Linked DNA regions of Homo sapiens. The protein of the gene in region 3 purifies or fractionates together with the protein of the main gene of each other region. This does not show direct contact. Each region holds a gene or a part of one and is shown on either strand. Other genes may lie near its edges. The genes, in order: CTPS1, HDLBP and UBA6.

Region 1 (7,548 bases), on a different chromosome or scaffold from region 3:
GACTAAAAGGAAAGAACATCAACATTTAAAAGTGGTTGCAGCTAAACCAAAATTCCTTTAATTAAAAGTAGTTCTCTGGCTGGGCATGGTGGCTCATGCCTGTAATCCCAGCACTTTGGGAGGCAGAGCCAGGAGGATCACTTGAGGTCAGGAGTTCGAGACCAGCCTGGCCAATATGGGGAAACCGCATCTCTACTAAAAATACAAAAATTAGCCGGCTGTGATGGCGCACGCCTGTAGTCCCAGTTACTCAGGAGACTGAGGCAGGAGAATCGCTTGAACCCAGGAGACAGAGGTTGCAGTGAGCTGGGATCATGCCACTGCACTCCAGCGTGCGCGACAGAATAAGACTACCTCAAAAAAAAAGAAAAAGTAGTTCTCTTCTATAATTTAACAACAACTTGCTCCTTGTCAGAAATCTCTCCCAGGCATGCAATGAAGAGAGACTGTAAATACTGGGGGAGAGGGACATCAGATAAGAAACCAGTCTGAAGCACATGACGGGCAGAGGACTCAAAGAGAGGGGAGATGAGATTAAATCCAAAAAGCAGTGCCACGGTGGCAGGGAAAGGAGAAATAAGATATAAGGGCAGCAGAGTCAAGATGCAGGTGAAAACAGCATCGACAAGAGGTGAGGAGACCGTGACAGGCTCACCACGGAGGATTTATCACTGGTCCCCAGCTTCAGAGGTCCAGGATCGTCCATTTGGTCAGCAAACCCAAATGTGACCAAAATGAAAAACACAATTAGAAAGTAGCAGAAAATGCTTACTTTGGCATGGTCAGGACATTTTCCTCCTCAGGAACGTTCCATGTGAAGCCAAATTATGATAAAAATAAACTAAGGAACAAGAAAACTAAGGAGTTGTGCTCGAAGCATTCCCCCGCCCCACCCCCTCCCCAGAGCAAGAAAGAACACACTTGGCAGGGAAGGAAGAATGCTCAGAAGTCTTCCCCGCTCCAAAGGCTCTTTGCATCCTCTGCTGCAGCATTTCCAAAAGCATGCTCCCTGGTTTCAACAAAATGCACATGGGATTCTCAAAAAGGGTGTTATGGATATAAATCAGAGAAACGCTGATTAAACCAAGTCATTTAACGCAAGAATCCTGGGAGTGTTTAGCAAGTAAACTCGCACTGTGATCACTGCTATACAGTATGCGGTGTCTCCAAGCTTATCTGACCCTAAGTCTCTCACTTTACAGTTCCTTATTGACACATGAAAATCAGTCTTAGGTACATTTTAGATATGTTCTAACCAGACATATACCTTACTGAGACTATACCCTGGTCTCCCTAAGTTTTGGATGATCCTAGAAATTCCTCTGCCACCGAGTGAGTTACTTCTACAAAAGATTCATCTCATCCAATTACATTTGATTTGTCCCAATTTTACTCTAAGAGTTTAACATCTCTCTTTACGTTCTTTAGTTTCTCTCTTTAGATTCTTGCAGTCTCAGTGCCTGGCAATACATATGCCAGTGTACATAAAGATCAGGCGGGAGGCTCATTCATTCATCCTTATGGGCTACTGACTTACATGACAGCTACTGTGCTTGGGGACTGCAAACATTAATCAGATTTGGGCCCATATCTCAACTTTCTGGCAGTCCAGTTGGAGAGATGAAACATTAACAAATAAATGAGTAATTCAGTGACGGTGGAAGCAGACAGAAAACATGTTTAGACTATAAAGGGGGACGATGAGAGCAGACGCTTTCAGTACCATGGCCATCAGAGGAAGGTGAGACAAGTCCTGGGGGTAGTGGGCGGATCCAGGCGGCTCCTGTTTTGTAGATATGACTTGCAATGGGCCTTGAAGGACTGACTGCACGACTCAGAGCACAGGAAAGGGAACAGGGTGAACAGGCAGGTGCAGGGCAGCTACAGAGAACAGAGGTAAGGCCGTGAGGGGGAAGGCGGGGAAGCAGGGATATACAGTGGAAGATAAACTGGAAAGGTAGGCAAGGGCCAGATCATGTGCAAACTGGCATGCCCAATCTGAACTTAATCCTGAAGGTGACGGAAGGCGCAAGAAGGTTTTCCGGCACAGAAGTAACGTAAATCAAGACGCATCAGAGAAATTCAACAAAGACTGAGGGGGGAAATGCTTTTTCTTTCAATGTTATGAGATGAAGTGCCAGCCCCCATCACTAGTGTGCAGACCTCAATCATGTCACTTGAGCTGCCTGCAACGCGGGTTCTCACCTAGGGGAATGGGGGTGAGAATCTCTGCGCCGCCCGCGTCACAGGGCCGCTGAGGATTCGAAACTGTAACGAGCGTGGACGGAAGGGCGCCACGCAAACGTGGTGAGCTCTATACACCGCCAGCGCCCCGACCCCCGGCCGCCGGGAAGGGAGGAAGCCGTGAGGCCCAAAGGCCAGCCGCGGGGCCCAGGGCCGGCGAGTTCGCAGGCCCCCTCGTCCTACGGCGCGGAGCTGCCGCGCCCAGCCCCGGGCGGCTGAGCCCGCGCCGAGGCCGGAGGCCCGAGGCCCGCACTGCTTGAATGGATGGGCGACTGCCGGGCTTCCTCGCAGACGAAGAGCAAGGGCGGAGGGTGTGGGGGGGGGCGCCGCTCCACTCCCCTACGGCCTTCTCCGTCCGACGAGCCCGGCCGAGCTGATTCGGCGCGGCCCAGCGCGGCAGCGCAGGCCCCGCAGCCTCTGAAGCCGCCCCGCGCCCCGCTTGGCCCCTCTCCCCAGCGCCGCCCGGCCACGAGGCCCGCGCGCGGGAGCCGGCAGCTCGCCGGCCGGGGCGCCCGCCCCACTCCCGTTAGGCACACAGCCCATTGGGCAGGACGCCGAGTCACCTCGCCCCTGATTGGTAGGAGCGACGTCCGTCACCGCGGCGGCGGGGCTATTCGGCGCCGGGCTCAGCTCGCGCCGCTGACTCCTGCGCGGGAGAACAGATCCCCCCCGGGATCCCTGGAGTCAGCCTACCTGCGGCCGGCTTCAGATCCTCCCGTCAGCGACAGAGCTGGGCCGGCGACGCGCGCGGAGCCCCGGACAGCCAGTGAACAACCCCGACCGCATGCGCCCGGCAGTCTTTCACGGAGGCGGGCTCTAGGCTGTGCGCACGCAGAGGTTGGAGGGCGGGCCGGGCCTGGAGGGCGCGGGGCGGGGCGGGGCCTGGAGTGCGCAGGCGCGGGACAGGACCGCTGGGCCGCCTCCGCTGAACTGTGCCGCCGTAGGTTCGAGGCCGGGCGGGTGGTGGCGTGTCTGCCCCTCTGCTTCCGTCCCAGCCTGTGGCCCAAGCTTACTCTCTTGAAGGGGAGGAGGCTGTTTGGGAACTCACGCCTGGCCTATTCGTCACCTGGCCTCGCGTCCTCCCACAGCGGTCTCCTGGAGTTCTGGGCGTCGCCTTCCATCCGATGGTCTTTCACTGTGGGCTCCTGGCGGTGATGCGCCAGCGCATCTCTGCCTCCGGGCGAGGGACGGCGGCAGCGCCACCCTGGCCTCCAAGACGGAAGTGCGGAGGGTCGCGCGGCGTTGGCTCCTCGTCGGCCTCCCTCCTCCCCACACCTGCCCCGAAGGCGGCTGCTTTGGATGGACTAGGATCCCGAAAAGTACGGTTTCATCTAGCTATCGCTCCCTGAGCACCGACTGTGCCACGCACTGTGCTGGGCACCGAGGGACCCTCTCCTCGGACTAACGATGTAGGGAGGCACACTGAGCAGCTCATTACACTTTATGGTTGTTATGGGTGCTTGCTGCAGAGATGCTGGTGCCGGGGCAGTGAGTGCCCAGCGCGGGGACTGACCCAAGTCCGGTGGTGATTGGGAATTCAGGCGGGAAGCCCGCCCTGAAAAAGTAACTTTGAAGCAGAGACCTAAGTAGACGGCAAAGATGGGAAAGGGAGAGGCGGGGATAAGAAAGTGAGACATGCTTGAGCCCAACAGTTCGAGACCAACTTGGGTAACATAGCGAGACCCCGTTTCTTATAAAAATAATAATAGTAGGCCGGGCGCAGTGGCTCACACCTGTAATCCCAACATTTTGGGAGGCCGAGGCAGGCGGATCACAAGGTCAGGAGTTCAAGACCAGCCTCGCCAATATGGTGAAACCCCGTCTCTACTAAAAATACAAAAATTAGCTGGGCGTGGTGGTGGGTGCCTGTAGTCCCAGCTACTCAGGAGGCTGAGGCAGGAGAATAGCTTGAACCTGGGAGGTGGAGGTTGCAGTGAGCCAAGATTGCACCACTGCATTCCAGCCTGGGCGACAGAGCGAGACTCCTTCTCAAAGAATAAATAAATAAAATAAAAATAGTAATAATAATTTTTTTTTAAAAGTGAGGCAGAAGGAAAAGCCTGTGTACAAGCCCAAAGAGGCCGGCACAGCTGAATTGGAAGGCCAGTCTAGCCAAGTCCACAAGGGCCACAGGAAGCGAGATTAACATGAGATTAGGTTGAAGAGTTGGGTAGGGCCATACGGTGAAGAGCATTATAGACCAAGTAAAGGCTTCTCTTTCTCCTAGGGATAGTGGAAAGCTGTAGAAACTTTTGAGAGGCTTTTGACCTTCCTTTGAATAGTGAATATATGTACATGGTTATAATTTTTCCCCAAACACTACACAAGGGTATCCATGAAAAGTAAATCTCTTATTTCTGTACCCCAGTGTTCCTGTTTTGTTCTCTAGAAGCAGTCTGCCACAAGTTCTTAACTATCTTCACTGAAGGAGTTTTAAAAAAAAAGATGTGATGGGATCAGATTTGTGTTTTAGGAAAATCATTGAAGCAGATGGATTCCCAGAAACCAGGTCAGGAGGCTCCTGCAGTGGCCTCTTTTAGAGGCTTCTGGCTCCTTCCAGATCTGGATCACCAGTGCTTCAACCCTGACAACCTGCCCATGCTGCATTCAGCTCCAAATCTAAAAAATGTTTGGAATGCCAGGCATAGTGGCTCACACTTGTGATCCTGACACTTTGGGAGGCTGACACAGGGTGGGAGGATTTCTTGAGTCCAGGAGTTCAAGACCAGCCTAGGCAATATAGTGAGACCCCATCTCTACAAAAAATACAAAAATTAGCTGAGCATGGTGGCACGCATCTGTAGTCCTGGCTACTCCAGAGCCTGAGGCTGGAGGAATGCTTGAACCCAGGAATTCAAGGCCAATGGGAGCTAGGATCCCACCACTGCACTCCAGCCTGGGCAGAGTGAGACTCTATCTCAAAAAAAAAAAAAAAAAGTTTGGGTTGTCTTTGAAGGTACTCTACAGCCACATCTTCTTTCAAGAAGCATTTGATGTTTATCAAAGTGCCTGGAACATAACAGATGCTGAGAACATACTTGCTGAGGTAATGAAGATGCTATGGGAGATGGAAAAATGAGCCATTCACCCAACCACTCCTCTGAATGACCACTTGACATTGTCTTCTTCCTCAAAGCTCTTCCATCTCCTCCCCCATATTCTCCTCAGCTGGTGGTCTTGCTTCCCATTTCACGAGAAAATAGAAGCCATCAGTAGATTTTTCATATCCACCAACCACTTTTATCTGCGCACAAGCTCTGCGTTGTCTCCTGTTACTGTGGACAAACTGCCCACACTCCCAGAGGTCAACCTCCTCTTTGCTCCAAGTGCCATATCCATTTGTCAACTCAAAGAATGTCTAGTATGCAAGTGCCATATCCTTTCATCAACTCAAGAATGTCTAGTAGAATGTCCCTTCCTGCGTCATCAGTCTTTCCCTGTCTAGTAGATCTTTTCCACTACCGTGATGCAAACATGCTGCAATTTGTTCCATCTTAAAACCCCTCTCCTGACTCTATGCCATTCTCTAGCTCCCCCTCCATTTCTGTTTCACTTTTCAGCACAACTCCTAAAAAATGTTGTTTGTACTTTGCTGTCTCAATTTCTTCCCTCTCTTGAACTCATTCCAATCTGGATATTTTGCTCATATAATTTCACTGAAACTGATCTCGTCAAAAATTAACCTCCATGTTCTCAGACCTCTTCTTTGTACATCAGCCTAGACTCCAATCTCTAATGTCCGTAAGTCCCAAATAAAGACAACAGTGGGCTGGGCGCAGTGGCTCATGCCTGTAATCCCAGCACTTCGGGAGCCTGAGATGGGTGGATCACAAGGTCAGGAGTTCGAGACCAGTTTGCAAATATGGTGAAACCCCGTCTCTACTAAAAATACAAAACTTAGCCAGACGTGGTGGCAGGCGCCTGTAGTCCCAGCTACTCAGGAGGCTGAGGCAGGAGAATCACTTGAACCTGGGAGGCGGAGGTTGCAGTGAGCCAAGATTGCACCACTGCACTTCAGCCTGGGCGACGAGCGAGACTCCGTCTCAAAAAAAAAAAAAAATAGACAACAGTGTGGCTGTATGTGCATGGCATGAATGCATATGTGTGTGTGCACGTGCGCATGTGTATGTATTTACATATTTGGGCTGCTTCTCTCCCCCACCATAGGCCCAGTCTCCTTTTGGGCTCCTAGGTGCAGCTATACAGCCCCAGAGCTGCCCCCAAACTGACCACTTCCCTAAGAGCATTTGTCACAGCTGATCATTTCCTCCTTAAAAGGTGGGTGTCCTTTACTTGGCTTCTAGGAAACCACTTGCTGTTCATTTTTTCCTATTTCACAGGTTTCTCCTTCTAGATCTCCCTACCTAGATCCTCTTCCTTTTCCTCTATCCTGAACTATAAACATTGCCCCAAGCCTCAGTTCTAGGATCCCTTCTCTCTAAAGTCATTATCTAGTCATTAAAACCATCTGGCCCAGACGCAGTGGCTCACGTCTGTAATCTCAGCACTTTAGGAGGCCGAGGTGGGCGGATCACAATGTCAGGAGTTCAAGACCAGCCTGGCCAACATGGTGAAATCCCGTCTACTAAAAATACAAAAATTAGCTGGGTGTGGTGGCGCAGGCCTGTAATCCCAGCTACTCGGGAGGCTGAGGCAGGAGAATCACTTGAACCCTGGAGGCGGAGGTTGTAGTGAGCTGAGATTGCACCATTGCACTCCAGCCTGGACAACAGAACAAGACTCCGTCTAAAAAACAAAACAAACAAAAAAAATCCTTATTCTGACTACTCCCAAATTGATGTTCCCAGGCTGGATGTGTCCTGAACCCCAAGTTCTCTTCCAAGCCCAGGTCCTGAGGTGAGCCAGGCGCCTCGCCTACACGTGGGCCAACTCTATGATCCCATTGGTGCTCTAGAGCTCCCCGTGGGATCAGGCTGAGGCAAACTTCCTGAAAAGAACCAGTCTGTATTTTAGGCTTTGTGGGCCATATGGTCTCTTGCAATCACTCAACTCTGCCTTCATAGTGCAAAAGTAGCCATAGATAATATATCGATTAAATGAATGTGACTTATTTCAATAGAACTATAGCTGTGTTCACAAAATACTCTTTTACAGAAATAGAGCTTGGGTCTGAAGGCCAAAATGTGCCAACTCCTGAGCTAAACACATATCTTTGTCTCACTTTTTCCCCGCCCCATGCTCCCCTCGCTCCCTCACAGTCTTCACCTGAGGTTATTCCTCAGTCACTCGCTGACTCAAGAACCTACCTCCGGCTTTCTTCCTAGGGAACCCAGGCTAAGACAG
Region 2 (7,106 bases), on a different chromosome or scaffold from region 3:
CCTCCTCCTGCCCTGTGTTTGGTTTCAGGCCAACATAGCCGAGGTAGAGGTCTCCATCCCTGCCAAGCTGCACAACTCCCTCATTGGCACCAAGGGCCGTCTGATCCGCTCCATCATGGAGGAGTGCGGCGGGGTCCACATTCACTTTCCCGTGGAAGGTTCAGGAAGCGACACCGTTGTTATCAGGGGCCCTTCCTCGGATGTGGAGAAGGCCAAGAAGCAGCTCCTGCATCTGGCGGAGGAGAAGGTGAGCATGGGGAGGGAGCGTGACTCTTGGCAGGAAGCCTGGTCCTCAGTACAGTGTTCTCGCTTCTCACTGTGGAAACCCCTGAATGCCCTTCCTTTGTGGCGGGTCAGAAAACAGCTCTATAATGTACTGTTTATGCGTCTTTGTTTTTGCTGTTACTGGAGGGCCTTTCCAGGTCCAAACGCTCACATATGCAATATATAAAAGTTGGTCTTTGGCTTATTAGTTTTGGGGTGCTTTTGTTTTTTAAATATGATTTACAGTAAAATTGGCCATTCTTCAGGTATAGTTGAGTTTTAAGTAACATGCAGTCATGTGACCACAATCATCAAAATTCATTTTCCATCACCCCTAAAGATTGCCCATGGAATTGCTGTTGTCCTTGTGTCAAAACCCATCTGTGGGTATGTTTCCGGGCTCTTCTGGTGACACCAGGTTTATGGGAAGTCTGGAAATCAGTAGTGTGAGCCCTCTTAACTTTGGCTGTTCTACACCCCTTGCTGATCAGCCTGTCAATTTGTAGGAAAAAAGCACTTTCACGTTTTGATTGGGATTGTGTGAAATTTGAAGATGAGACTGGCGAGGATTGACAGCTCAGCAGTTTTGACTTTTGCAGGCATTTCTCCATTTTTTTTAGGTCTGTGATTCTTTATTGGTGTTTTATAATTTTTAGCACATTTTTATGTTCGACTTAACAGATCTAACTACTGTTACTCTTTTAGTGCTATTGTAAATGGCACTTTTTTTCCATTTCCAGTTGTTAGCACATGGAAGTGCCTGTGGTTTTTGTATGTTGACCTTCACGAGGCTGCTAAATAAAGCTCATGTATATTAGCGCCAGTCACTGTTTTGTGGATTTTTTTTTTTTTTTTTTTTTTTTTTTTTTTTTTTTTGAGACGGAGTCTTGCTCTGTCGCCCAGGCTGGAGTGTAGTGGCGCAATCTCGCCTCACTGCAAGCTCCGCCTCCTGGGTTCACGCCATTCTCCTGCCTCAGCCTCCCGAGTAGCTGGGACCACAGGCGCCCGACACCTCACCCAGCTAATTTTTTGTATTTTTAGTAGAGATGGGGTTTCACAGTGTTAGCTAGGATGGTCTCGATCTCCTGACCTCGTGATCCGCCCGCCTCGGCCTCCCAAAGTGCTGGGATTACAGGCGTGAGCCACTGCGCCCGGCCCACTGTTTTGTGGATCCTTATTTTATATGTCACAATCACGTGGTCTGTGGACAGTTACATTTCTCTCTAATCTGGAGCCTTGTATTTCTTGTCTTTTTTGTTGTTGTTATTAGATTGATGTTTTTGTCTTTGTGTTTAACCAGCCTTGCGTTTCTGGGGTAATCCCTGCTTGGTTTGGTAGGTTGTCTTTGGCCATATTGCTAGATTGCATTTGCCTAATTGATTGCCTAATGTTTGACTAATGCTGCTATTTGTGGATGTCTTTGAAAAGTAGCAGAGTCTCTAGGTGGTATTTGGTGAAACCTGCACTTAAAAGGTAGCAAAGTTGTTATTTAATATTTTTGTGCTAGCATGTTTTTCTTTGGTATTTTTGCTTGCGGGCCAGATCTTGGGTCCGGAGAAAGGCAAGAGCTCCCCGTGTGGACCTGAGTCCCGTGGAGCAGCGCCCTTCTCGGGGCCCCTGCGTGGGTCTGCCAGAAGCACTGGTGTCCACAAGCAGTGTCCGGGGCCTTTCCAGGACCCTCGTTTTCTTACTGCCACACAAGGGCGTCGCACTACACGAGGCCTCTGAGGACCGGTCTCTAACTGTAGCCTTGGTTGGCTTGTGTCCCTCTGAGCTTGAGCTTGAGCCTGGGGAGTGGCTGGTTTTGTGGAGGCTGATCTGTAGCACTCGTGGGAAGAAAGGGAGCCTGGCCCAGATTTGTGTGTGCTTGGTCTGGAAGCAGGTAGAAGAGTGGGAGCATGGTGCACACCTCTTGGGCAGCTTGCTTCCTGCTCTGCTGGGCACACCCCACGCTCCCCAGGACGTGCACTCCGCCAACATATCGTCCGGCGCGTTGCTCCCACCTCCCCCTGTGCAGATCAAAAATGGCTTGGAGAAGTTTGGTCAGTGCTTGTAAGTGGCAGGACCAGGGTTCTAAGCCTGTGTGTTCATCCCACCAGCATCTGGTTGTTGTGGAAGAGAAGTAGGTGTGCAGTCTGGGTATTCATCTGTTTATTCAGTGAGGTGTGCTAGCCCCATTTTGGGGGTATTGGTGCAACATCAGGACACTGGTGACAATGTAAGGGGAGCCCGAGCTTGCTGTCCTACAGACCCTCTTGTCTTCCTCACTGTGGTCCAGGCACGTGGTGTCAGGCTAACACAGTGGGATTGGTTTCTGCAGCAAACCAAGAGTTTCACTGTTGACATCCGCGCCAAGCCAGAATACCACAAATTCCTCATCGGCAAGGGGGGCGGCAAAATTCGCAAGGTGCGCGACAGCACTGGAGCACGTGTCATCTTCCCTGCGGCTGAGGACAAGGACCAGGACCTGATCACCATCATTGGAAAGGAGGACGCCGTCCGAGAGGCACAGAAGGAGCTGGAGGCCTTGATCCAAAACCTGGTAGGGAGCGGGCCTCGGCGGCCGACTCTGCTGGGGCCGTGATGGGGTGGCTTATCTTCCATCTCTTCTTAACACTGCAGGATAATGTGGTGGAAGACTCCATGCTGGTGGACCCCAAGCACCACCGCCACTTCGTCATCCGCAGAGGCCAGGTCTTGCGGGAGATTGCTGAAGAGTATGGCGGGGTGATGGTCAGCTTCCCACGCTCTGGCACACAGAGCGACAAAGTCACCCTCAAGGGCGCCAAGGACTGTGTGGAGGCAGCCAAGAAACGCATTCAGGAGATCATTGAGGACCTGGTAGGCACTTGGGTGCTCGGGGAGGGGTTCTCACCCCCCAGTGGCCACTCACCGAAGCCGTGTATGAGTGTTCGCTCCACCCTGTAGGGAGGTGACTCCCTCATACAGCCCTGGAAGGCTTCAGAAGGGGCTTTCTGGTGCTCGCTCTTCTTTCCTCAGCCTGTCTGGCCTCCTTCCTGATAGTTGGTGAGAATTCTGCCTGCGAGAAGCACTTAAAAAAAAAAAGAGAGAGAGAAGGAGAAGAGGAGAGGGGAGAGAGAGAGAGGAAAGAAAGCAAGAGAAAGAAAGAAAATGCATTCTGTATAAGGGATCAGGAAAAATGAAAATGCAGTCTAAGGGGTCAGCTCTCTTCTCCCCTCTGTGAAGGAAAGAAAATCGATTTGAGGGCATCCACGTGAATCCATGGGAAGTCATGAGAAGACGTGGTCTTTAGAAGCAGTCTTTAGAGAGTGTCCCCTCCAGGCCACTCCCCTGCCAGGGCCTTGGATTCCCTTTCCCTAATAATCAAGTCTGATGCCTCCTCATGGAGTCAGAGGCTACCCCAGGAGGTCCCACTCCTTTGGCTGAATTGGCCACCCTCCAGGGATGGCACCTGGCCTTCTGGGACACATTTCAGAGGAGGCCCACCCCCTTAGACCTGTCCTGCTACCTCCCTCCTCCCTGCGCCTGGAGCCCTGGACTCGGGAGAAGGGGAGCATCTGTGCCAAGTGGCTGTAGAGGACAGGGAGGAAGGTGGTGTGAAGAGTGCTGTAAAACTTGCCCTAAGGAATTTAATCTTTGCTCTTTTCTTTTTTCTTTGTGTACCTCCCTCCAGGAAGCTCAGGTGACATTAGAATGTGCTATACCCCAGAAATTCCATCGATCTGTCATGGGCCCCAAAGGTTCCAGAATCCAGCAGATTACTCGGGATTTCAGTGTTCAAATTAAATTCCCAGACAGAGAGGAGAACGCAGGTGGGTCCCCCATTAGCCCTGCTCTGCTTGTTAATAGTGGCGCCTCCCATGTGAGAGGCGGGGCTGTCGCACATACTGGTGAGGCTCTTTCCTGTCTCTGCTGGAAAACCATCTATGTATTCTGGGGGCTTCCAGAGGTTCAGGGTCACTCCCTGGCCTTTAAAAGATGGACCACGTCAGTTACTGACAGAGTGACCAGGTGACCTTCATAGGTCCTAGAGACACACAAGGTAGCCAGTCCCAAGGCGATGAGGAGCGTGCAGCCTCATCCTCGGGTGTCCCGAGTTCAGTCCCAGTGATTCTCATGACATCGTTTGGATCGCATGAGCCCCGTCGTAGAGCTTCCTCCTCCACATCTCCCATCACTGTGGGGTGTCCCCTGTGAGGCAGGCAGCTGCAGCCTCTGGCTGGCCAGAGGGCACCATCCAAGTGGCCGGCAGTTCTAGGAGAGCATTCAGTTCCCCGTACCATGCTTGCCCCCAGCTCTGCTCATGCACCTGGTGGTGGGGAGGCGACCTGTGGGATGCGGGTCGGTTGCCTCTCTCTCACTTGCTCTGCATTTGTGAAACAAAAGGTATGCCCTCCACTCTGTGTTATCAGATGCCCGCCCTCCACTCTGTGTTATCAGTCTTGGTTGAGCTGTTTGGGCGGCAGGTGGCCCTGCAGCCTGCTGAGTGCACATAGTGTCATCTCTCTGGGCATCCAGGAAGCATGTCACACACAGCCATTCAAGCCCCTTTGTTTTCCTGAGAATACAGGGTGTTTTGAGTAGGAAACTAATAAACTCATACTGCACTCTGTCTATGTTTTACACTTCAGTGGTTATTTAAAACTTTGATTTTGATAGAATTTCACAGAATAGTATAAAGACACATCCTGTGGCACCAGTTTCTTTTCTCAACTTCTCCCCTTTTACACACGTTTTTTTTCTGAATGTCATTTTTAGACATGTCCCTTTATTCATGGTGGGTATTTTCTTAGAACAAGGACATTCTCTTACATAATTCTAGCACATTTATCGGAATCGGATTTAACATTATATAACAGTAGTATCTAATATGTTGTCGGTATTCAAATTTGCCAGTTTTTCTCCTTCAGAAACACCTACTTCCCCATCCTAGGATCACCCTTGATTTCAGGCAGGCGTCTGTCTGGTCTCCTGCTCATTTATTTACATCACACACCTCCTGGGTTCTGTCTTAGTGATAATTATTGTTGTGTCTGTTTTGTGACACTTATTGTTGTGGTGTCTATTTTGGTACACACGCGGTGTCCCAGTGTGGCCTGTAGGAGCCCCTCCAGCTGTCTTCTGTGTCCTGTTCACACGCCTCTTCACTTCTGGGGCTCTCGCTTTCTGGCATAAGGAGCTGGCACAGGTTTACCTTGGCCTTGCCCTTTCTGTCTCCCCTAGACCTCTCACCCCCCTTCCCACTGCCTCTCCTGGGTGGGGCTGCGTGCTGGCCGCCTTCCCTGATGAGCCCTGCCTCACAGTCAAGCCTCACTTGTGCAGTGGGTCTGCCCTGTGTTCCTCCCATGAACTAACTCATCTGATCTCACTGAAGCCTCTGCTGTAGTTAGTTGCTGTTAGCTTCATCTTCAAGGTGAAGAAGGGAGACACAGAGCTCACGGCCTCCCGGCAAAGCCTTCATTGCCGCCCCCCCCCCCCCCCCCAAGGTCTGGGAGCCCTCTTTGAGGCTGCTGTGGGGACGTCCTATCTGCTCTCCCTGACCAGACCAAGACCTCCTGAAGGACAGGAGTGGTTTTCCCTCCCTTTTACCACCCAGCACCCAGCAGGTGCCTCACAGACATATGCATTCTGAACAAGGTGTGGGGTCTCTTCCAGCAGCTGTCAGCTGTCCCTTTTCCCCTTTCTCTCTAGTTCACAGTACAGAGCCAGTTGTCCAGGAGAATGGGGACGAAGCTGGGGAGGGGAGAGAGGCTAAAGATTGTGACCCCGGCTCTCCAAGGAGGTGTGACATCATCATCATCTCTGGCCGGAAAGAAAAGTGTGAGGCTGCCAAGGAAGCTCTGGAGGTATGTGTCCATGTGCCCCCCTCCACCCCCCGCCAAGGCCCAGTCAGCAGGCACCTGGGGAGACGCGTGGCCTGGATGGGATGGACGGTTGCCCAAGCGGCAGTGGCAGTGGAGGTAGCCCTCTTGCTCCTACCGTGTGCGCACGGGCTGTGCTTCTCGGCTGGACACAGAGTTTGGGGAGGCCACTTCCCTTCACCAAGGCTCGGGGTTCTATAGCCCCTTTCTGGGACAGCTGCATGGGATCCGGCCTCTCAGGCCCACGGTGGGTGCGGGGGCTGTGGAAGGGTCTCAGCTGCAGGGGGATGAATGTGACCTCCAGTTGCAACGTCTCCCCCCGCGTGAGTGGGGTTATCAGGCCTAGCTCACCTTGTGTGCAGTCAGTGTCGAGTGCCACCTGCGTACTGGATGCTGCTCTCAGTGCTGCGGTGCCACAGCACACAAAAATAGTTCTCACGTTGCCGTGGAGAGACAAGCAGTCAACGCAGATATATCCTGTGGCAAGTGATGGTAAATGCTGTGGCAAGAAAGCAGGTTCTGGAGGTGAAGGGCGGTGGGGGAGACAGGGCAGGGAAGGTGAGCAGCGGTCTGAGAGTCCCTTGTGGCACCTCGTGGGCATTAGCCAAAGCCGTCCTGATCCCAAGGGACAGGGCAGGGAAGGTGAGTAGTGGTCCGAGAGTCCCTTGTGGCACCTCATGGGCATCGGTCAAAGCCGTCATGACCCCGAGGATGTGCCAGGAGTCAGGGCCTCTCCTCCTACGTGGGCCTGAAGGGGCTGCTGTAATTCAGGAGGGTAGGCTTGGGATGAAGGGTCTGGAATTTCTGTCTGCCAGCATTAGCCTAATGCAAATCTTTTCCTATTCTTTTCTATTGAGTTAAAGGTCCTGGTGGCATTGTCGGGTGGGGCACATTGCTGTTGTCATAGGGCTGTTTGCCTTGTGTTTCGTGGAGCCCCATTGCTGAGCTTACAACGTCACTCTGCTCTCAGCTCCCACGGCCTAACCATGACCATCCTCC
Region 3 (7,106 bases):
TGTCTTGCGTTTTACTACATCTTTTAATTAAGTGACTCTTCCACTTCACTGGACAATTATTTCATACCTTCTTTTCTTTGCTCTTACTTCCTTTATCTTCTTATCCCCTTCACTCTGAGCTACTAAGCTAGCTTCTTATTTCAACTAAGAAAATATTCTTTCTTTATCATAGCCCCAACTATCTCTGTAATTTCCTCATTTAAGACTCTTCCCCTTGTATATTCTCTTCTAGACGAGTCCTGACCTTAAAAGCTTTTCAAGGCCTTTCTCTGCACTTATTTCTGCTGCCTACATTGCTCTTTCACTATTCCTTTACTTCCTTCAGGTTTCTGCTAAAATGTTACTGTTATCAGAGGTTTTCCTCACTTCCATCCCATATAAAATTATACCAGCTCCATCACTCTTTCTTTTCCCTGTTGTATTTTTCCTTCTTAGCACTTACACTCACACTGCAATATTATGTACTTATTAGCATTTTTGTTTATAGTCCCTCTCCGCCCAAAATACATTGGTCCAATGTATTTTATACATTCCTTCAGAAGGTATTATTATGTTATTCATGTATGTATTTTATTATCTATCTTCTCACAAAGGCATGTAAGCTCTATAACAACAGGGGATCTTTATGTATCTTGTTCACTGACAGAACTCCAATATATCTAATTTTTAATACCCACAATGATATAGTGGGCATAAAAAAATATTAACTGAGTAGCTCATACAATCTAAGTCTATACTGATCTTTTTTAAAATTCCACACTAGAATAAAATTAGTATTAATCAACAGTTTGTGATTCTGACAAATCTACTTCAAACTCAAGTTGCACTGACAAGAGCAAGAGCAAGAACCATTCATTGTGATATTCTCCAGGTTTAGAATGGGACTTGGTACAAGTCCAAATTCCCAAACTATTTGCTGAATGAATGATTTTTTAAACATACCTTATTGGAAGGCTTGAATTCCTGAATCTTTACTTCTGAAAGAATATTCAAGAGGGCATCTGCTGATAAGTCCTGTTTTTAAAAAAGTAATTTTACCAACAAACATATTCTTCTAAATTCTAAAGCTAAAAATATCCTACAAAAGGTCCTTAATCATATTACAATATATGAATATTTCATTATCTGAATATGTAGACATCCATTTGAGACATTTATCTTTATTTCTATAAAAATATCCCCCCATAAAGGTTATGGGGGAGGAGAAGGTAAGGGGTAAAAAAGTACTTATTAGTCAACAAACTTGAAATTTTAGTCCTTCTGCAAATTTTTTAAAAGGCATTTTTAGGACTGGTTGTAAATATAAAACTGAGTGACTTGATCAGTCAGTTTTAATTCCCTTAGCTTTATGTTTTATGTTTTTAATGTTTTACAAAGTTCCCTGAAGTAAGTTATACTCAATAAGTAAAATAAGTAAATGGAATTCATACCTTAAGAAGGAGGGAGATATTTAAATGGTTAAAGATGAACTTATATGAATTTAAAGCTATGGGTTGTATTTACATTTGTCATTGAGAAGTTGCTTGGCAAAGGCTGAGACTTAGTGCTTTTGAGGTCAATTACCACACTCACCACTAAATTACCACTGATTTTCCCAAAAAGAATATCAGACTGAATGCCACTATTTTTACCAAATATTTACAGTTTATTTGTATGAATTCCAAAAAGGATTAATCTAAAACAGATATTGTTATCTGAATCCAAAACAGCCAGTGTTAATTATGGGATCTGATTCATGTTTCTCTATTTAGCCCACCTAAAAGTACAGCAATTTACTTAGCTAGAATATGCATTTGTGAAGAAAAGAGATGCCTCTCAAAACCGTATGAGGCTCTTTAGATGTTAGTCAATGAAGATGATGTTTAAGAGAATGAGTATGATGCTAAAGTAAGAAATGTCAATATAAGGGAGCATTTTCAGATTTCCTGAAAAGCACATAAATTATCACAAAATAACAAACAAATGTTAACAAAGAAAATCTCTACGCAGTATTTCAAAATTGCGATGAAATGGTTTGCTGTGGCTTTTTAGAATAACTAGGATAACTGAAGCTGCTAAGCAGGTTATAAATATTCTTAAAACAAAGTTTAACTGCTTTTAACAAATAATGCTGTTTCACTGCTTCAATTCAGAAGGAAAAATCCGACTTCTACTTAGCAATACTGCAATGAGCTTTTAGCTTCCATTATGTTAGTATGGGTAAAAATACAATAAAAATTCTGTATCAAAAAGAGTGATTCTTATAACAAACAAACATGTTTTGATGCAATTAGTGCATCAGTCATCTAATTCTAATTTGGTTTTGCATCACTTGCTAAGGCTTAAAGAATATCTTACCTCTTCTGCAAATGGAATACAATATACTGTAGCATATAGTTTTGCAGCATTCTGAAGGAAACTGAGGTGCCTTTTGAAATTAAAAAATAAAGCAAAATTTGAATGTACAGTTTTAAAGACGATATTTAACTCATTATGAACTATAGCCTTTAAATGTAGTTTGAAGAAATATAACCACAGAATTATTATTTCAAGTTTTTTTTTTTAAGTTAGACAAAAATATTCTGGTCTACACCAAAACACTACAGAAGTTATAAAAGACAAAACATCAAACAGTTATTCTCAAAAACACTTAACATTCAGGTAGTGATCATGACTACCTTGGGAAGAGGAGTGAGTGGACAGAACCAGAAAACTCAGACCAGTGAACAATAATTCATTTTAAGTCATAAGAAATATTATACATTTGGTCTTAATGAGTATATATCAAGTTCAAACTAAGTAAATGTGTTTATTTAAAAACAAAAAAAGAAAGTCTTATAGAAGAAGCAGTCCAGCATAAGGTGACTGGAAGCCTAAAACCACCACCAGATGAGAAAATTAAGCATAGAGTTATCTGCTGAAAGGAAGGTTAGTGAATGCAAGCTAAGTGTTTAAAAATATATATACATAAGGTTGGGTGTGGTGGTATGCACCTGTAATCCCAGCTACTTGGGAAGCTGAGGTGCGAGGATTGCTTGAGCCTAGGAGTTCAAGACCAGGCTGGGCCACATATGTGAGACCTTGTCTCTTTCAAAGAATAAAAACTAAATTAAAAAAATAGAAAAAATATACATATACACACAAGTGTGAATCTAATGTGTATCTAATATAGTGTTTCCAGGTATTCACACAAAGACCAACTCCTCTGAAAATAATTTGAGATTTAGGGAGTTATTCAGTAGTAATTATTTGTTCCTCCATATAACTGAAGATTCTTATATTTGATTTCATTAAATGTAAAAACACATTGTCATTTTACTAATTTATGGATAAAGTAAAAAAGGTGATTTTGGTTTCACCTTAGATATTTATTATAAATAATGAGGTTATTTACCATGTAAATGAATGGATTCACATTTGTGTGGGAAGGGTTGTGGCTGGCTTTCTTGGTCAGAATGACTTGTTAACTCTTAAATGAACAGGGATGAAATAATTTAACATTAAAGAGCCTAAGGTTTTCACTCTGCAATGTACAGTTAAGGAATTTACAGTAAAGAAATATATAATGAAGGATACATAAAACTAAATATAAATACTTACAAAGGCTCATTTAAATCAAATTTTATTGGAGAGGGTGGCCTCTTTGGTGACTGCCAAAATAAACCTGGCAAAAAGATACAAATATCATTTTCAATGTATGTAGCCAGTAATAAATGTCATTAAAATTTATTCTCAACATTTATACTTACTGCCATCTTTTAATCGTATGTCCAGAGGGAAACAGTGAAGAAGCTGAAGAGCCTAAAGAAAAAAAATGAATTAAAGACACCCACTACTTAATATTATCTGAGGAAAAATTAAAAAATAAAATTAAAAAATGTGTGTAGTAAATATATGCACATGATTCAAAAATCAAAACACATTAAAAGAGACACAGTGAAGTCTCCCTACCACCCTTGTATTCCATCTGTCCATTCTCCTGTCAATGTCCCTCATAAATGAAAAATTCAAATATCATTTTCTATCACTATTTGTAGGTTTATTGGGAGGTGGTATCTACAGCAAACAAATGTAGATTACTTCACTCCTTTTTATATAAATGGCATATTTTACATGTCATTCTGTTCTTTTTAAAGAGCTAGTACTTAAATAACAAAACCAGAAAAAACACACAGTACTTTGTATTTTTGAAATTGATACATGTTTGAGATTTGCTTCAAAATCACCTGGGGGAAGGTAAGAATGAACGGGAATGGTGATGAAACAAGATTTATCTATGAATTGATAACTGCTAACCCTGGGTGATAGGTAATTGACAATTACATTAGGGTTCATTATACTATTTCCTCTACATTTCTATGGCTGAATATTTTTCATTATAAAAAAAGTTTAAAAAAAATGCACAGAAGATAAGAACTAAAGAGTTCCTTAGATTTTTGAAACGGGTCATTGATAACCATGTTAAGAACAATCTGAAGAGTAATGAGCAAAGAAGTCAAATTTACTGGGTAAAGAAGTGGTAACATTGAGTAGTACAGACCACTTTTCCAAGAAGTAGAGCTCTGTTGAAAGTAAAAAGAAGAAGTATAAACGAAATATTTTTTAAGTGGGGTGTGGTGGCGTGCACATGCAGCCTCAGCTACTTAAGGGCTGAGGCAGGGATCACTTGAGCCCAGGAGTTCCAGGCCAGACTGGAAAACATAGGGAAACCCTGTTTTTTTGTTTTTTTTTAAAGTTGTTTCTAAGGAAGATGAACTTAAGATCCTAAAGAGAGGGAAAGACTAAAGAGAAGGCAACACACATTCCAGCAACTATATTTAACTGGAGGTAAGAATAACAGCTAATATTTAGTAATTTTTTATGTGCCAGGCTCTGTTCTAAATGCTTTGTGTTACCTCCTTTTATCTTTACCACTACCTTATGTATTAGGTACAAATTTATTATTTCTATTTTACAGATGGGGAAACAGACATAAAATGTGATTATCAGATATGGGTGGAAATGGCAAAATCTCAGCAAAATTTCTGACTAAATGTCCCTATTTTCTCAGTTTCTTGCTTCTTCTATTCTGAACAAACTTCTTTTAGATTAGCATGTGTTCTCATTTAACTTACTACTAATTTCTGAAAAGCTTGCCAAAAGAAAGAATACACATTTCAGGTCAATGAAATTAATTTGTTAATAACTAAATAAGCCAAGATCAGACCTTTTCTTAATGTCTCACAATGCATACTTACCTTATGGTTAAAATATTTTTCAAACTTTAATCTTGCTAATTCTACACACTGGGACCAATTTCTAGGTCTTCTGCTAAGTAACTTTATAACTTGAAAACAGCCTTCTAAACTGTGTCCACTCTGTATCTTCTAGAATGGGAGAGAAAAAAAAAATCAACATACTTCCAATTACAAACATATACACATCCCTCACCAAAAGTTAGCCTAAGTTTGAAGTGTCAACTCATGTGTTTTATGCTTTTCTTTTTTCACCTCAAGCTCCTTTTCCCTTCCTTCTTCTTTAACCTTTCTTTTCTTTTCTGTTTGAGAAGGGGAATGGTAAGAGATAGCATACAAAATTTTAACTCTGATTTCTTATCTTACAAGTTATCCTCATATTTTCCTAGCTGTAAGTTATTAGTACTATAATATATGTACTCACTATAAGTGCTATGAATATTTGATACTAAAAAGTGGGCCTTGTTAGCAAAAGATTAAAAGAAAGTGAGAAAACATCTTTAAAGTTGCCTTCACTATAAGAGTAATAAGTCTTGGAGATTATTGTTCCCTCATGAAATTTTAACTAGAACTTACCTCAATTTTTTCTTTCCAAAGGGCTTAATAAAAGCCCTTTTATTATTTGTAGCCCTTCTATCATAATTATCATATCTTTATTAGCTCGCACCATACGAATTGCTGTTTTGTGAGTCGAACATGCTCAAATATCGACAATTCCATGTAGTTCAAACAACCAAAATGATAATTTGTGACCTAATTTCAAGATTCCTTATGTATCATTTCATTTTTTATATACAATCACTCTTTATGGAGGTAAAATAAATCACTTGTAGATGACTTGAAAATAAGATTACACTGACACAAAGTGTTAAGTTTGTATTAAAATTTACTGATTTTTACCTGTAAGACTTCTTCTGCAGATGAATAGGTTTGCCAAAATTTGTTAAACAATGAAGGTTTGTGGGAAAAGGAACTTTCAAACTGTAACAGAGAAAAGAAAAAAAAAATTACAAATAGAAGTCTGTTTAAAGTCAGAAATATCTTCTTTCTCACTTCAAAGAAAATAAATTTAAAAAGGAACTTTTACCTTATCTCTTGCCCACTGTATGGTATGTTCAATAGCAGCTGGAAAGGATTTTAGAGTACAAAATGGTATTTCCTCTTCTGGGGGATCCCGCTAATTTATAAAATATGACAACAGGTACTTAAGGGGAAGCAATGACCAATTTTTATTGATTTAATCTAGTTTTGAGCTTTAAGCCTATTAAAAATCCAAAAATAAATAAAATCCAACCAGACATTTTTATATCTTCTCTCTCTTAGGCAATAAGAGAAGTTAATTCTTTTGACATTTAACCTATTTGTTAATAGCTATGTAATGCCAAACATGAATCTTATTTATTATTTGTGTACTCATTTAAAGCACCATGTAGTACTCATGACACACCATCATCTATAAATCATTTTTTTCCTCATGAATCAAGGTGACATTTAAAGTTTTATAACACTGCCCCGCTTTGAAAAGTAATTCAGGAATACCCAGTATAGTGCTCAGAAAAGCATGAGTTTTTCCATGGAGAAAAACATCTGGGAGCAGAAATATGTCCTCAATGCTTGAGGTTTCTTGCAGAAAGCATGTATTAAATAAATGGTAAATACCTAAGTCGTTTTTTGTGGATAAAGTACCATTGAAGAAATCCACATTCTATTATAGAGTACATTTTGCCTAGGTTTATTGGTTTACCTAATCTAAAATGACTCACTTTGTCTCAGCAAGTGAATAAAATTTTATGTCTTTGTTGACAGTTCTAGTCTCAATCTAATAGTTTGTTCTTATCAAACAATCTTAAACTCAAAGGGTATTAGAAAACTAAGCAGCTCTGAGAAATAAAT

Evidence for each region.
Region 1: the proteins of UBA6 (region 3) and CTPS1 fractionate together in Homo sapiens (co-fractionation; 2 studies listed by BioGRID). This does not show direct contact.
Region 2: the proteins of UBA6 (region 3) and HDLBP fractionate together in Homo sapiens (co-fractionation; 2 studies listed by BioGRID). This does not show direct contact.

Annotation. Positions count from the first base shown.
Region 1 is NC_000001.11:40,975,219-40,982,766, reverse strand, and holds the start of CTPS1 (CTP synthase 1), read right to left. Parts: upstream 3,072-7,548; 5' UTR 2,938-3,071; intron 2,738-2,937; exon of another isoform or gene 2,206-2,737; intron 2,176-2,205; exon of another isoform or gene 781-2,175; coding exon of another isoform or gene 773-780; intron 728-772; exon of another isoform or gene 656-727; intron 1-655. UniProt on the Homo sapiens protein: This enzyme is involved in the de novo synthesis of CTP, a precursor of DNA, RNA and phospholipids. Catalyzes the ATP-dependent amination of UTP to CTP with either L-glutamine or ammonia as a source of nitrogen.
Region 2 is NC_000002.12:241,235,601-241,242,706, reverse strand, and holds part of HDLBP (vigilin), read left to right. Parts: intron 1-28; coding exon 29-247; intron 248-2,398; exon of another isoform or gene 2,399-2,584; coding exon 2,585-2,806; exon of another isoform or gene 2,807-2,886; coding exon 2,887-3,105; exon of another isoform or gene 3,106-3,205; coding exon of another isoform or gene 3,206-3,316; intron 3,317-3,919; coding exon 3,920-4,058; intron 4,059-5,937; coding exon 5,938-6,092; intron 6,093-7,106. UniProt on the Homo sapiens protein: Appears to play a role in cell sterol metabolism. It may function to protect cells from over-accumulation of cholesterol.
Region 3 is NC_000004.12:67,628,129-67,635,234, forward strand, and holds part of UBA6 (ubiquitin-like modifier-activating enzyme 6), read right to left. Parts: intron 6,391-7,106; coding exon 6,301-6,390; intron 6,195-6,300; coding exon 6,114-6,194; intron 5,346-6,113; coding exon 5,217-5,345; intron 3,781-5,216; coding exon 3,729-3,780; intron 3,644-3,728; coding exon 3,580-3,643; intron 2,408-3,579; coding exon 2,338-2,407; intron 1,015-2,337; coding exon 943-1,014; intron 1-942. UniProt on the Homo sapiens protein: Activates ubiquitin by first adenylating its C-terminal glycine residue with ATP, and thereafter linking this residue to the side chain of a cysteine residue in E1, yielding a ubiquitin-E1 thioester and free AMP.